4 linked regions of the Homo sapiens genome follow. The protein of the gene in region 2 purifies or fractionates together with the protein of the main gene of each other region. This does not show direct contact. Each region holds a gene or a part of one and is shown on either strand. Other genes may lie near its edges.

Evidence for each region.
Region 1: the proteins of PAIP2B (region 2) and LARP1B purify together in Homo sapiens (affinity purification with mass spectrometry; one large-scale study listed by BioGRID and IntAct). This does not show direct contact.
Region 3: the proteins of PAIP2B (region 2) and RBMXL1 purify together in Homo sapiens (affinity purification with mass spectrometry; one large-scale study listed by BioGRID and IntAct). This does not show direct contact.
Region 4: the proteins of PAIP2B (region 2) and PABPC4L purify together in Homo sapiens (affinity purification with mass spectrometry; one large-scale study listed by BioGRID and IntAct). This does not show direct contact.

Annotation. Positions count from the first base shown.
Region 1 is NC_000004.12:128,204,312-128,207,811, forward strand, and holds part of LARP1B (la-related protein 1B), read left to right. Parts: intron 1-2,116; coding exon 2,117-2,226; intron 2,227-2,944; coding exon 2,945-3,072; intron 3,073-3,500.
Region 2 is NC_000002.12:71,217,104-71,220,603, reverse strand, and holds part of PAIP2B (polyadenylate-binding protein-interacting protein 2B), read left to right. Parts: intron 1-3,500. UniProt on the Homo sapiens protein: Inhibits translation of capped and polyadenylated mRNAs by displacing PABPC1 from the poly(A) tail.
Region 3 is NC_000001.11:88,978,956-88,982,629, reverse strand, and holds the end of RBMXL1 (RNA binding motif protein, X-linked-like-1), read left to right. Parts: 3' UTR 1-3,174; downstream 3,175-3,674.
Region 4 is NC_000004.12:134,198,990-134,203,084, reverse strand, and holds the start of PABPC4L (polyadenylate-binding protein 4-like), read left to right. Parts: upstream 1-1,295; 5' UTR 1,296-1,367; exon of another isoform or gene 1,368-1,839; 5' UTR 1,840-1,891; coding exon of another isoform or gene 1,892-2,065; coding exon 2,066-3,178; 3' UTR 3,179-4,095. UniProt on the Homo sapiens protein: May bind RNA.

The DNA.
Region 1 (3,500 bases), on a different chromosome or scaffold from region 2:
GCATAATAGGGTGACTATAGTCAATGGTAGCTTAATTGTACATTTTAAAATGGCTTAAAGAGGCCAGGCGTGGTGGCTCATGCCTGTAATCCCAGCACTTTGGGAGACCGAGGTAGGTGGATCACATGACATTAGGAGTTCAAGACCAGCCTGGCCAACATGGTGAAACCCCATCTCTACTAAAAATACAAAAATTAGCCAGACGTGGTGGCAGGCGCCTGTAATCCCAGCTACTTGGGAGGCTGAGGCAGGAGAATCACTTGAACCCAGGAGGTGGAGGTTGCAGTGAGCCGAGATCGCACCACTACACTCCATCCTGGGCAACAAGAGTAAAACTCTGTCTCAAAAAAAAAAAAATTAAAATTAAAAAATAAATAAATAAAATGGCTTAAAGAGTATAATTGAATTGTTTGTAACTCAAAGGATAAATGCTTGAGGGGATGGATACTCCATTCCCAATGATATGCTTATCTCACATTGCATGCCTGTATCAAAACATGTCATGTGCCCCATAAATATATGCACCCACTGTGTACCCACAAAAATTTTAAAAATTAAAAAAAAAGATCCTGATTCCATTGGTTTGGAGCAGAGCCTGGGCATCAGTATTTTTAAAAGCTCCCCAGATGATTATAATGTGTAGCTAAGATTGAGAACAACTGATGTCGGTATATGATCCCATAAGAGGAACATCAAAGCAAGTTTGTCATTCTGAACTGTGGTTCCTTTAGTCTTTGATCTCCTTAGACTTCAGTCATGCAAGCTCAACCAGTAGCATCACTTAAGGCTATGGGAGCCAAGGGCTCAGGTTGCTGTATAAGTGTGTAGTTGGCAGTCCTGCATTTCTCTTGTTGGCTTGCCAGACCATCACTCTTCGTCTTGTAAATAAGCTGGTTGCAAAAGAGACACACAATCACATACCCTGCTTCCTGTGACTGACAGCCAGTTAATATTATGTTAGCAGAATGAAGAGGTTGTAACCTTTCTGCTGAGGTACCCAGAATGACTTAGGATTCTAACTTAGGAGTGTTTTAATTGTGGTATCTTTTAGTTGAGTCAGCTAGACAAGGTCTTTTTGCTGCCATCTTACAGCCTTGTTTCACTCTCATGGGTTCTGCTCATCACCTGTGGTTGAAGGTTGAGCCTATATAGTTTGCTGATCTACTGAGCAGAACTCCTAGATTCTCAAGATAGTTATAGACAGAAACAAGGAAATTTGTTTTCTCATTTACGTAGTGATTATAGCTCTATTAGCAATATATCTACTATTAATTGTACTTTATAATGAAAGCAGGGAGGCTCTCTTAACCATTTAATTATGTTTGTACCATTATAGTTGAATGGGACAGCCACACCTGGGATCTAGGGCACAGCCGTACAGTCTTTATCTTCCTAGAGTAAAGCTTACATTCAAGAGTATTTATTTAATGCTGTGTACAAAGATACCATTATAAATTTTGGTTTGGGGAAAATCTAACACATCCCCAATTTATCACTAAATCTTTTGGCCAGTTCTTCAGAAATACCAGGGAGAGATAATGTGTGCATCTAAAGAGGTCATACTGAACTGTCCAAGGGCTGCCTTTCATGCAGCAGGTTCTCAGTATACCTTCATGATGTGCTACGGCTGAGTCAACAAAAATAGCAAAGCCAGCTGTAGATTACTAATTACCAGTTCAGTTAAAAATCTGCATACCGGCCGGGCGCAGTGACTCACACCTGTAATCCCAGCACTTTGGGAGGCCGAGGCAGATGGATCCCCTGAGGCCAGGAGTTTGAGACCAGCCTGGCCAACATGGTGAAACCCCGTCTCTACTAAAAATACAAAAAATTAGCTGGATGTGGTGGTGGGCACCTGTAATCCCAGCTACTCGGGAGGCTGAGGCAGGAGAATAGCTTGAACCAGGGAGGCGGAGGTTGCAGTGAGCCGAGGTCGCACCATTGCACTCCAGCCTGAGCAACAAGAGTGAGACTCTGTCTCAAAAATAATTAAAAAATCTGAATGCTAAAATTTTATTTTTTGTTTAGGATTAGTTGTGCCATGTTTGCTTATATTGATGTTACTAACTATAGAGATATTGTATTTTATTATAAACCTTTTATTTTCTCTTTATAGGTATGGGTTAGAATGTCTGTTCAGGTTTTATAGTTATGGACTGGAAAAAAAATTCAGGCGAGAAATTTTTCAGGATTTCCAAGAAGAAACCAAAAAAGACTACGAATCTGGTAACAATAACATCAGAAAACTTGTACTCTAATTGGAAATTGTAAACCTGAGTCTGTCAGTAAATAGGGAAGGAGTTCATAGTTTTTTTCTTCAGGGCAAACCATTTAAGATCTTCATGCTATTGTTGTGTTTCTTGATGAAGGATGGGGCACCAGGTAGTAAGAAGGCCTTTCCTGGGAGGTGTTGGAAAGTAACTACTCTCAAGTCTTTCTTTTATGGAGGTATATTTTGTCATTATCCCTTTGACAAACGTGGCTACTCACTGATGTTCCGTTACATGAAAATTCTATGCAACATCAGCAGGTAAGCTTGGAAAGGCAGAAATAGCACAGTGGTTAAGAGTGCAGGCTCTGGGACAGACTGCTAGGTGCAAATTCCCTTTCCACTATTTAGAAGCTATGTGATTGTGGGTAAATTGCCTACCCTTGCTAGCCTCAGTTTTCTCATCTGTAACATATATGAGAACACCCATCTTTTGGGTTGTATATGGTTCAAATTAGTTTGATGCATAATAAAGCACTTAATGCTTGTTACATAACAAATGCTCAATAAATATTAGCTGCCATTATTGGTTAATTCATTACATGTCTTATTCTCAAGATCTAGAGTAAGCATATATTGGAAGATAAATTGTTTATTGCTGATAGGATTATATTTAATGTGAATAATTTTTAAAATTTCATATAATTCATAATGTATATTATTCTTTGTTATTAGGTCAGCTGTATGGACTAGAAAAGTTTTGGGCTTATTTGAAATATTCTCAATCTAAGACACAGTCTATTGACCCAAAACTTCAGGAATACCTCTGTAGTTTTAAGAGGTTAGAAGACTTCCGTGTTGATGTAAGTTTTAAGTCATTTCCTCTATTCTTTTTATTATCCATATATTTCAGTCTCTTATCAGTGACTTTTTAAGCTTTAATTTTGTAATTTTTATTTTTTAACTTTTTAGTTTTAAAATTAAACTTTGAAATAGATATAAAAATAGTTCAGAGAATTCCCATATACTCTGTTCACTCAGATTTCGCAAATGTTAACATCTTGTATAACCACAGTGCAATTGTTAATTCAATTTAATTTTCATATGCTGCTATAATTAAACATTTTCTAGATTTATTAATTTTTACCTGATATGCTAATTTGTCACTAGCAATGTGAAAACTTTTCACTTTTTAATGATCTTTTATCCATATAATTCCTGTAACATGTGCTGATATGGATTTAGGGTACCTGCATAATAAAATTAAGGAGAGAATGTTGTGTGCATGTGT
Region 2 (3,500 bases):
GGACAGACTGAAGGAATTTATCCACCTTAATTTGAGTTAACATTTTTAAACATTTTATATTGCAGAAATAGTACATATTCACTGTTGTGAAATTAGAAATAATTGATTGGCAAGGAGCAGGGGACTACAAAGCACTCCACAGATCCACCATACTGAGACAGTGGTTAGTGCTTTGATGGGTTTATTGTATACTTTCTATGCATATACATGTATTGTATACATACATATGCATGGTTAAATAGAAATGGTTCATCCTAGCTGTTCTGTTTATCCCTTTATTTTTATGAAATAAATCCCCAAAGAGTACATTTGCTTTGTCCAAGGGAATCTTTTGTTACGTGCTGCTGTACATAATGAAAACTGAAAAAGGGGCTAATATTTCAGCCTAGTGACCATGTGGGCTTGCAGTAATTTAAATAGAGGCCTCATGAGAGGCACCTTCGGAAATGAATTTGGTGTGTGTAGGTGGTTATGCTTGGCATCATTGTTTGTGCTAGTATGATAGGGATGACTTCAGTGCCTGCCATCAGGGAACTGGTTAAGTAAACTATGGTACATCCAAATGATGGAATACTGTGTAGTTGTAAAGAAGAATGAGAAAGACCTATGTACTCATGTGGAAGAACTAGATATTGTGTGTGTTTTTAAAAAAGGAACAAGGAATGGTATATGGATGGCATAGTGTATATGGTATGCTACTTTTTGTGTTGAGAGAGAAGAGTAGAGTAAGAATATACGTGTGTTTGCAGAGATAACTTCTGAAATGATAATAAGAAACCAATTAAAAGTGTTTGGCTGTGGAGGGAGAATAGGACTATGAATGGGATTTTGCCACATACATTTATAGATAGTTATATTTTAAATATTTTTGAACTATGTATTTGCGCACATTACCCTTTTAAAAATAAGTGAATGAAGGAATGAAGTGGGATTATGAGAACGAGATAAGAAAAAAGGTTCTATGGGGCTGCCCATCTTTTTAGTACCCAGAGAATATTAATACATAGCAATAGCAGCAAAAATTGGAAGAGTAGCCCCAGGAAGGTGGGGAATCAGCCTTTCCTTTGTCTTTTCCTCAATTTCATATATTTTAAAAAATGAGAAGAGTAAAACAATTTAAAACAAAAATGTTTCCAGAACTTGTAAAATAAAAGGAATATGGGGCAGCTTTGTGTAGTGCACATCCCGAAAATGGGCTGATTCACCTCAAGAGGCAAGGAGTCAAGCTCTCTAGCCTACATGGGGTACATACATGAGAAAAATAAGAAAAAGAAAAGAAATGTAAAAATAAATGAAAATAACACTTATCCCTGATTATAAAGGAAATCACATTCTTTTTACAATAATTTAACAAAATATAAAGAAAAACCCTTAGGCTGGGCGCGGTGGCTCACGCCTGTAATCCCAGCACTTTGGGAGGCCAAGGTGGGTGGATCACAAGGTCAGGAGATTGAGACCATCCTGGCTAACACCGTGAAACCCCGTCTCTACTAAAAATACAAAAAAAAAAAAAAAAAAAAATTAGCTAGGCGTGGTGGCGGGCACCTGTAGTCCCAGCTACTCGGGAGGCTGAGGCAGGAGAATGGTGTGAACCCAGGAGGCGGAGCTTGCAGTGAGCCAAGATCGCGCCATTGCACTCCAGCCTAGGTGACAGAGTGAGACTCCATCTCAAAAAAAAAAAAAAGAAAAAAAAAGAAAAACCTTTAATTCTGCCACTCAAAACATTCTGGTTTGCTGCTTTTTATACTTTTTTATGCATATAAACATTTTTAAAAGTAGAATCATAAAATATAGTCTTTTGTCACATTATATTTTGGGCATGTTTCTGTGGCAGTAAATATATCCTGGCATCATCATTTTTAATAGCTGGCTATATATTAAGTGAATCATTGCCACTCCAGAGGTGAATTTCCTTATATATACATTTTAATGGACTTGAGCAAGCATTTTTGGACGGAATTCATAGAAGTAGAATTTCTGGAGGAAAATAACAAAAAAACAGTTTTAGGGTTTTTAATAGAAATTTTCAAATTATCCTGCAGGAAAATGGGTTCAGTGTATACTCCCACCAACAGTGACAGAGTTCCAGTTTCGCCCTTCCATTTGTCATCTTTGCTCGTCTTTAAGCAGAAAATCTCATTGTTTTAATTACATTTTCTTTAATTTCTAGTGCTTTTGAGTCTTTTTAATATGCTTATTGGCCATTTTTATTCTTGTGGGAAGTGCCTTATTTCTCCATTATTTGTTTTTTTCTGAGTAATTTTATAAAATTATAAAATAATTTTATCTTTTTTATCATTTTTCTTTTTCTGAGTAATTTTAAAGATTTCTTTATAGGCTAGGGATACAAACCTTTTATCTGTCATTGAGGTTACCAAAACTGTCTCCCAGTAAGTAATTTGTCATTTTGCTTTATTTTTTCTTTCTTTTTTTGCTAGCCAAGCTCCAAAGTCACATTTCACTTTATTTTTATTGGGCTGAATGAAAGCATTTTAACTTAGTGATTTTAGTGTAAACAGGAGTAGGGCAGAATGTAATTATCTAGGTCTTGGTCTGTCACCCAGGCTGGAGTGCAGTGGCATGATCATAGCTCCTGCAGCCTCAAACTCGTGGGCTCAAGTGATTTTCCCGCCTCAGCCTCCCAGGTAGCTAGGACTACAGGTATATACCACCACGCCCAGCAGATTTGAAAAATTTTTTGTAGAGATAAGAATTCGCTATGCTGCCCAGGCTGGTCCTGAATTCCCGACTTCAAGTAATCTCCCCCCTTGGCTTGCCAAAGTGCTGGGATTGTAGGCATGAGCTTCTGCTCCCAGCCGAGAGCTTACTTTTGTTTGCTAGTGGTGTTCTTGGTATCTTTTCATATTTGAGGCTTTATTGCTAGTACTGAGGTATTACCCTCACCATCTGAGGTTTGAGGACTTTTGTTTTTAATATTGAACAGATGGAACTGTTTAGTTCTGCATCTTTGCAGGTAACACAATGTGCCTACCAGGACTCTGCCTCATGTCCATTGAAAGCAAGAAGCAATACAGTAAAACTTTGCCTGGGTAGAGGCTTTGAAAGAATGGAGTATTCTGGTTTAATTCTATTAACTTGGAAGTATGAAGGTGAAAAAATTCAAAAGTTTAATTTCCTGTAGAATGCAATCCAAAAATATAGGCTGGGCTTGGTGGCTCACACCTGTAACCCCAGCACTGTGGGAGGCCCAGGTGGGTGGATCACCTGAGGTCAGGAGTTTGAGACCAGCCTGACCAACATGGTGAAATGGTGAAACCTTGTCTCTACTAAAAATAGAAAAATTAGCTGGGCCGTGGTGGTGGACTCCTGTAATCCCAGCTACTCGGGAGGCTGAGGCAGGAGAATCACTTGAACCTGGGAGGCGGAGGTTGCAGTGAGCCAAGATCATGCCACTGCACTCCAGCCTAGACGACAGTGAGACTCCGTCTCAAAAAAATTAAAATATATATATATAGCCAATAATTCCACTTTTCTTCTCT
Region 3 (3,674 bases), on a different chromosome or scaffold from region 2:
ATCCCAGTTCAAAGAAACAAAAAAAAGAGTGGAAACTATTCTATCATAACTACCCAAGGACTACTAAAAGGAAAAATTGTGTTACCTTTTTTAAATTCCCTGTTAAGTCCCTTCCGTAATTTTTATGTTCTTGTGAGGAAAAAAGTAAAACATGTTTAATTTTATTTGACTTTATGACATTGCTTTTCAACAAGCAAATGTTAAATGTGTTAAGCCTTGTAGTACTAGTGTTGTAACTTTCCAAGTAAAGGTGTCCCTAAAGACCACTTCCTATCTGGTTTTTCCCAGTAAATGAGGCAAGCAATTCTAAGATCTTCCACAAAACATCTAGCCAACTAAAATGGAGAGATGAATCATTCTGCCTATACAAACAAGCTAGCTATTAGAGGGTGGTTGGAGTATGCTACTCATAAGATTTCAGGGTGTTTTCTAACTGAAATCTCACTGTTCTCAGTATGCAAAACCTGAAATCAGATGCCTATGTAAGGAAAGTGCTATTCACCCAGTAAACCCAAAAAAAGCAAATGGATAATGCTGGCCATTTTGCCTTTCTGACATTTCCTTGGGAATCTGCAAGAACCTCCCCTTTCCCCTCCCACAATAAGACCATTTAAGTGTGTGCTAAACAACTACGGAATACTAAATAAAAAGTTTGGCCAAAACCAACCATGAAGCTGCAAAGGTGCTTGCTCTTACTCTTTCAAATTTTTGCAACTCTAATGTCTCACTTTTAAAGGAACAGCTTGATTGCAAAGGAGAAAATAGATAAGCAATGAATTTATCTCCAACTTCCTAAAGGCTTATGACTTCTAAAAAGTGAATCTATCAGCATTCCACATCAGATTTAAAGCATCAAATGCCTGTGAAACAGCAAAGATGGTTGAAGATTGTGCTCATTATGTTTGTGGAGTGCTGATTGATTCACAGTAGATAACGCTGGCAGTAAGAGAAATCAAATGCTAAGAGTTGTTGAAGCAGAAGGCGGCTGATTGTTGGTAAGTCAGTGCAGTTGCATAAGCAGTGCTGTCAGAATTGGTTTGGTGCAGGCAATAGATTTTGCCTTCAAGGGTTCCTGTGGATCTCAGGAAGGCATCAGTGTTGATTAACACTCATAACTAGGGAGTGAGTGGTAGTTACTTAAGTAATTGACCAAATGGAAAAGGGGAAGTAATTAAGGAAATTGGTAAGTGGAGGTAGTCAGGAGGTTCTCGTGGTCCTTTACACAGATTTTACAGCTTTGGGTTTCATTTTGTTTAGCTAAAGTCATGGGGACAACTCTTCAATTTAGAACTTAAGATGAATTATAAAAATGATGGATATAAGTGGTAGCTCTATCTGGTGAAGTGTCTTGTCAGTAAGTGAAACATTTTTTTGTGGTGGCTTATCCACAAACAGTTTAGTTGTAGAATAAAACTTATGAGTGACATCTGGAAAGTAACAACCATGCTAAGATGGCAAACACACTGGAAACAATTGGGCCACTTGGCTTTCTTTTGCTGTATTGTTTTATAAGCCTGCTTTACCTCCCCGTCTTGGAAACAAGTTTTAGTTTATTGCTTTGGAGACTAGAGCCAATAGTGTAATGTTCTCAAAGGAAACAGACTTGAGTTGTTGGATTAGAGGAACTAACTCAACTTCTAATTTTTTTTGTTGTAATTATGGCACTGTCATGTTTTAACATTTGCAACTAGGGATAGTAAGTACAACATTTTTAACTCTCATTTGGCAGACTACTACTAATCACAGACCACAAGGGTAATGACCAAATTTATGTGGTTGTTACACTTCCATAGTTGTCTTAGCCGAATCCTTCCATATTCTTATGATTACTTGGGTTAAAGCTTCTGTGAGGACCTTTTGGCTCTTAAGATATCCTAAATATTTAAAATATTTAGATATCCTAAATATAGGATATAGAGTTTGTACCAAATATGAATGAATATTGTTCAAAGCAAGGAGTATGTTAAAATGACCAGACACCTGTTTGATAAATAGTTTACTGAACTAGCAGACGTGTGGAAAAAGAATCAGATCTTGATTCTTCTGGGTTTATACTGGTTGTAAAACAGAATGATATTAGAAAATGTTTTCCTTGTTTAAGTGGTAGTTGAACATAGAACTTGGGTATTATAGATCACTTTTCACTTTTTGGAATGTTTTGTATTGAAACTTAATACAACTTTAACATGGCAAAAAAAAAAAAAATCCAAAATCTATGAGATAATTTTGTTAAAGTTGGCTTGCTTGGGCGGGTGCTTGGTCCAGAGGGAGAAAAGAAGGCATGATTTCAGAATACTCTGGCAGCTTTTTAAATTCAGCTTTATCAAGTTACAGTAAACTGTATCTGTTTAGAATTACAACTCAATGGTTATTTTGACAGATGTATATGCCATGAAGCCACTGTCACCATCAACATGCAGAACACTTCCATCGCCCCCAAAAGATTCCTCAAGTTCCTTTGCAGTCCATCCCTCACGCTGCTGATTTGTCTTTGTCACCATATATTAGTTTGCTTTGTGGTGGTGTTTAGTATTTTATATAAATGGGATTGTGTAGCATGTACTTTTTTGTTTATGGTTTCTTTCACACACAATGACTTTGAAATTCACCAGGTTGCAGTGTATCAGTAGCTTATTCCTTTTATTGCTGAGTAGTGTCCCATTATGTGAATATGCCATTATTTGTTTTTCTACTCACCTGTTGATGGACCTTGGGATTGTTTCCAGTTTGGGGCTACTGTGAATAAAACTGTTAGGAACATTTGTGTACAAGCCACTGTGTAGACATAGGTTTTCCTTTCTCTTGGGTAAATACCTACCAGTAAAATGGTTGGGTTGCATGGCAGATTTATGTTTAATAAAGTAACTGCCAAACTGTTTGTTTTCCAAAGGGGCTATACCCTTTTATATTCCCACCAGGGTTGTATAGAGTTCCAACTGCCAACACTCAGTTTTCAGCCATTCTGATGGGAATCTAGTGGTATCTCATTGTGGTTTTATTTTCATTTCCCCGGGTGACTAATGCTGGTAAGCATCTTTTAAGGTACTTTTTGGCCAGTTGTATATTTTCTGTGAAGTGGCTGTCAAATCTTTTGCCCACTTTTAATTGGATTGTTTGTCTTATTGAGTTGTAAAAGTTCTTTATATATACTGTATTAAAGTCCTTTGTAAGACACATGTTCGTAAATACTTTTCTTTCATTATATGGCTCAGAATCTGGCAACTTTTTAAGAGATACTTGAGCCCACTGAATGATATATAGATCTTATAGTTTTTTTAAGTCAAGCCTTAATAATAATTAACATTTTTTGAGTGTTCATCTCTCAGTCCCTCTATGGCCATGAAGGTGGGAGATGTGACTCTGTTTAGTCTCAAGTAAAGAAATGCAAACTGAGATAATGGGTACAAATGGAGATGAAGCAAAGCCCTGTGATGTTCAAGTTCCTGGTTTCTGTTACCATTCAGTCTGGCTGGACCTCTGCCTTTCCCATGGTAACATGACCTTTCTAATGAATTCTCCCTTTTCATCTAAACTGTTTCAGATTGAGTTTCTCTCACATAACTAAGAGATCTGATTACTATAGCTTCGGAGCTTCTAAGGCATCTTATGCACTTGTCTCTTCCCCACTGTTCAATCTGAAGCATGTACTCTGCCCTTTAGCAAAAATCACAACT
Region 4 (4,095 bases), on a different chromosome or scaffold from region 2:
TTATTTGTTGTTCAAAGAGTAGAGAAGGTGAGCTTCCCATTCACCTTTTCCCCAGGTGTGTGCAGAAGGGGGATTTTTAAGGTCTCTTAGAGCATGAAGGTGGAGACTAAGGATGCGAATTCCTGGAAAGAGGTGGGACTTTCCAGAGAAAACTAGAATGTGTGCAGTCTTGTTCTTTCTTTTGCACTGGGCACTTACTATATGTGCCTAGCAAAGGGCATCTCTCCCCACTGGGCAGAGATTTTAATATGATAAGGAAGTGAGGATTCAGGTCTGTCTGAGTAGCACTGCCAAGCTGAGTTTTTATCTCGTGGCTTGTTTGTGGCTACTGGCATCCAGCCCGGCTTTTGTTTCTGTAAACAAGTACAACTGAGACCACAGGTTAATTTCATAGGTTCTGGCACTCTTGGAGAATCAAGGTCATGCTACCGTGACAGTAACTTATTGACTCTCTAAGATGCATTATGATTCAAATTTTAAGGATTCATTAGATACTAAAGAATTTTATTTAATGCTAAAGAAAATGAAATCATTGTTACTGGAAACCACTTATGTATCTGATATTGTGTTATCCATTTCCAAATCTATTAACTCATTTCACACGTAAAATACTCTCTAAGATAAGTGCCACCGCCTCCATTTAACTAGATGTGAAAACTAACCTGAGGCTAAGATTTGTTCAATAAATACTGCACATCCCTTGTCTGCAAGTCCCTGAGAATAAAGTGCACATGGCTTCTATTGTTACGAAATATGCAATATTTTGTAATTAGACAAAAGCCGGCAAGTACAGGGTAGTGTTAGAGTTTCTAAGAGGGAAACCTAAATTGTCAGAGGGGTTTAGAAAAAACATCTATTTGGAAAGAGCATTTTAACTCATTTCCGAAGAACACATTTTTATAAAGTTGGCTCTGAAAAACGCTAGTGTGTCTTGGAGTTTTGTAAGGGGAACTAAGCAGCAGTTGAGGCTGGAACATTTCAGGAATCCTGCAGAACTTTATAGAACAAGGTGCGGATGTTGGACCTTATCCAAAAGTCAAAGGAAGCCACTGGAGGGTTTGAAGCCAGGAAGTGACAGGCCCTGATCCACATTTGGAAAGGCTCCTTCACTCAGACCCATGCAAAGCCCTGCGGGCGGGTGGGTTTATTGGGGCCACTCCCCTCGGCTGCCTTTCTCCACCCCAGTCACCGCCTCCTGCTTCTCAGCTTAGCCATCTGAGGAGGGTGGGAAACGTGTAATAGGGGCGGGGGGAAGAAAAACGTTCTTAAAAAAAATATTAAAAAGAAAACATCCCACTTGGCAGCGAGTGCGCGGGAAGTTCAGCGCGCGAGTTCCGGGCTTCCCGCCCGCCCGCAGACGACCGCCGGTGAGCCCCCAGCCCCCGCCTGGCCGCCCGCTTCGCCGCGTCCGTCAGTCCGTCGGTCTGTCAGCCTCCCCTTCCCCCACGCCTCCTTTCTCCGGGCGCCGCGCGGGTCGGGAGGTCGGAGGGGCCCCCTAGGTCTTCAGGACGCCCTTGGCCCGCGTCGCTGCCGGCAGCGCCTCGGCGGCGGCGGCGCCTGCAGAACCCGGTACCTGGCAGGTTCGGGTCTCTGCCGGGCAGAACCTCGCAGCCCATACTCCACGGCTGGGGCCTCTGACGCCTCCGCTTGTGGAGTTCTTCCCTGAGCGGCTGTAACTTTAAACCACTCTGAGCGAGGCCTATTTTTATTCAGAAACCAGCGACCAGGGCGTCTGTGGAGAATGCTCAGATGGAGGGCCAGCCCGCCACTTGAAGTTTTCTCACAAATCTGAGGGGAAGGAACGTCTTGTCCTAATAATCTCTCTTTGCGATTTCACAGTTCTGTTGCCGCGTCCTAGGAGGGCCAGATTGGTGGCTGTGGGGACTTTTGGATGAGGGTGTTGCCTGAGCTGGGGGAGTCGTGTCTGAACTCCATTGCTTGGCCTTTGTGTGGTGATCCCGAGGCCTCCACACTTGAACCGGGCCAAAGCTGTGACCTAGTATCCCCCCACAGGGATTGCTCAAAGAACTCCAGGGGACAAACTCACAGTGGCAAGGACAAGGAGATGAATGTAGCAGCCAAGTACCGCATGGCCTCCCTGTATGTGGGTGACTTACATGCAGATGTCACCGAGGACCTGCTGTTCAGGAAGTTCAGCACTGTGGGGCCTGTGCTGTCCATCCGCATTTGCAGGGACCAGGTCACCCGCCGCTCTCTGGGCTATGCCTACGTGAACTTCTTGCAGCTGGCTGATGCCCAGAAGGCGCTGGACACAATGAACTTTGACATCATAAAAGGCAAATCCATCCGTCTCATGTGGTCTCAGCGCGATGCCTACTTGAGGAGATCTGGAATTGGGAACGTATTCATCAAGAATCTGGACAAATCTATCGATAACAAAACCCTTTATGAACATTTTTCAGCTTTTGGAAAGATCCTTTCCTCCAAGGTGATGAGTGATGATCAAGGCTCCAAGGGCTATGCATTTGTGCACTTTCAGAACCAGAGTGCTGCAGACAGGGCCATTGAGGAGATGAATGGAAAACTACTCAAGGGCTGCAAGGTGTTTGTTGGCAGATTCAAAAACCGAAAAGATCGTGAAGCTGAACTCAGAAGCAAAGCCAGTGAATTCACCAATGTTTACATAAAAAACTTTGGAGGTGACATGGATGATGAGAGATTGAAGGACGTTTTCAGCAAATATGGCAAAACTCTGAGTGTTAAGGTGATGACAGATTCCAGTGGGAAATCCAAAGGCTTTGGCTTTGTGAGTTTTGATAGCCATGAGGCTGCCAAGAAAGCTGTTGAAGAAATGAATGGAAGGGACATAAATGGGCAGCTGATTTTTGTAGGCCGGGCTCAAAAGAAAGTCGAGCGACAGGCTGAGTTAAAGCAAATGTTTGAGCAGCTGAAAAGGGAACGAATTCGTGGGTGCCAGGGGGTAAAACTCTATATTAAGAACCTTGATGACACCATCGATGATGAAAAACTACGAAACGAATTTTCTTCATTTGGATCAATTAGCAGAGTTAAGGTAATGCAGGAAGAGGGGCAGAGCAAAGGGTTTGGCTTGATCTGCTTCTCCTCTCCTGAGGATGCTACTAAAGCAATGACTGAGATGAATGGCCGCATCTTGGGCTCCAAACCTCTTAGCATTGCCTTGGCCCAGAGACACTAGGAAAGAAAAACGTACCTTTCCAGCTAGTATCTGCAGCAGGTGGGAGAATGATAGTGATCTCTGCCTGAATTGACCTCAGTAAATTTCATATTCCACATGATGGGTGCTTAGTTTAGTAAACTTTATGATAAAACGTTTTTTATACAAAGCCATTTTTTTTCTTTTGTGGAAAAATAGATGGAGCTTAGTTCATTTTACAGAGGCACATTTTCTAATTTTAATATTGCACATTTTTCTTATTTTGATATGTTCATAGCAATAAGTATAAATAGATATATTTTTACATTTGAACCAAATGAAATGAGGTAATTATTTGAATTTATTGCATATTTATTATTTTAGTAATATTGCTAGCTTTAATTTCTTCTATGAAAATATGCTCAAAATAGTTCTTACAACTAAAGATTCCAAAGTATTTTTACCAACAGAAATTTTCTAATTTTTCATCCAAGTTTTGAGAAATCAAACTTTTAGAAATTTATAGTACGAATTTAAAGACCTAATTTCATTTTGAATTAATGCTTAAAATAGTCAGATATAGTTGAATTTCTTTTAAATTTATATCCTGACATGCTTGTTTTTCGGATGGTTTAAATTAAGATGATGGAAGTTTTTAATGTTGCCTAAAAACTGGCTTTATGTGTTTTGTTCTTTCCATTAGTTGACTATAATTCAGGTACTTACTAGTTAATCTAAATTGTAACTTGCACTGTAAAACCTTAACTTCTACATTCCTTAAGTTATAAATCTGTTATCAACTCAGGTGATCCAAAGTTGGCCTGGTCTTAAATCTCTTCATACCTATATGGCTTAATATATTATCTTAAATTTTTACCAGATGCTAATATTATGAAAATCATACATACAGATTATAGAAATTCTGTTTAAAAACTTTTAAAATCTCTTTTATATTGTTT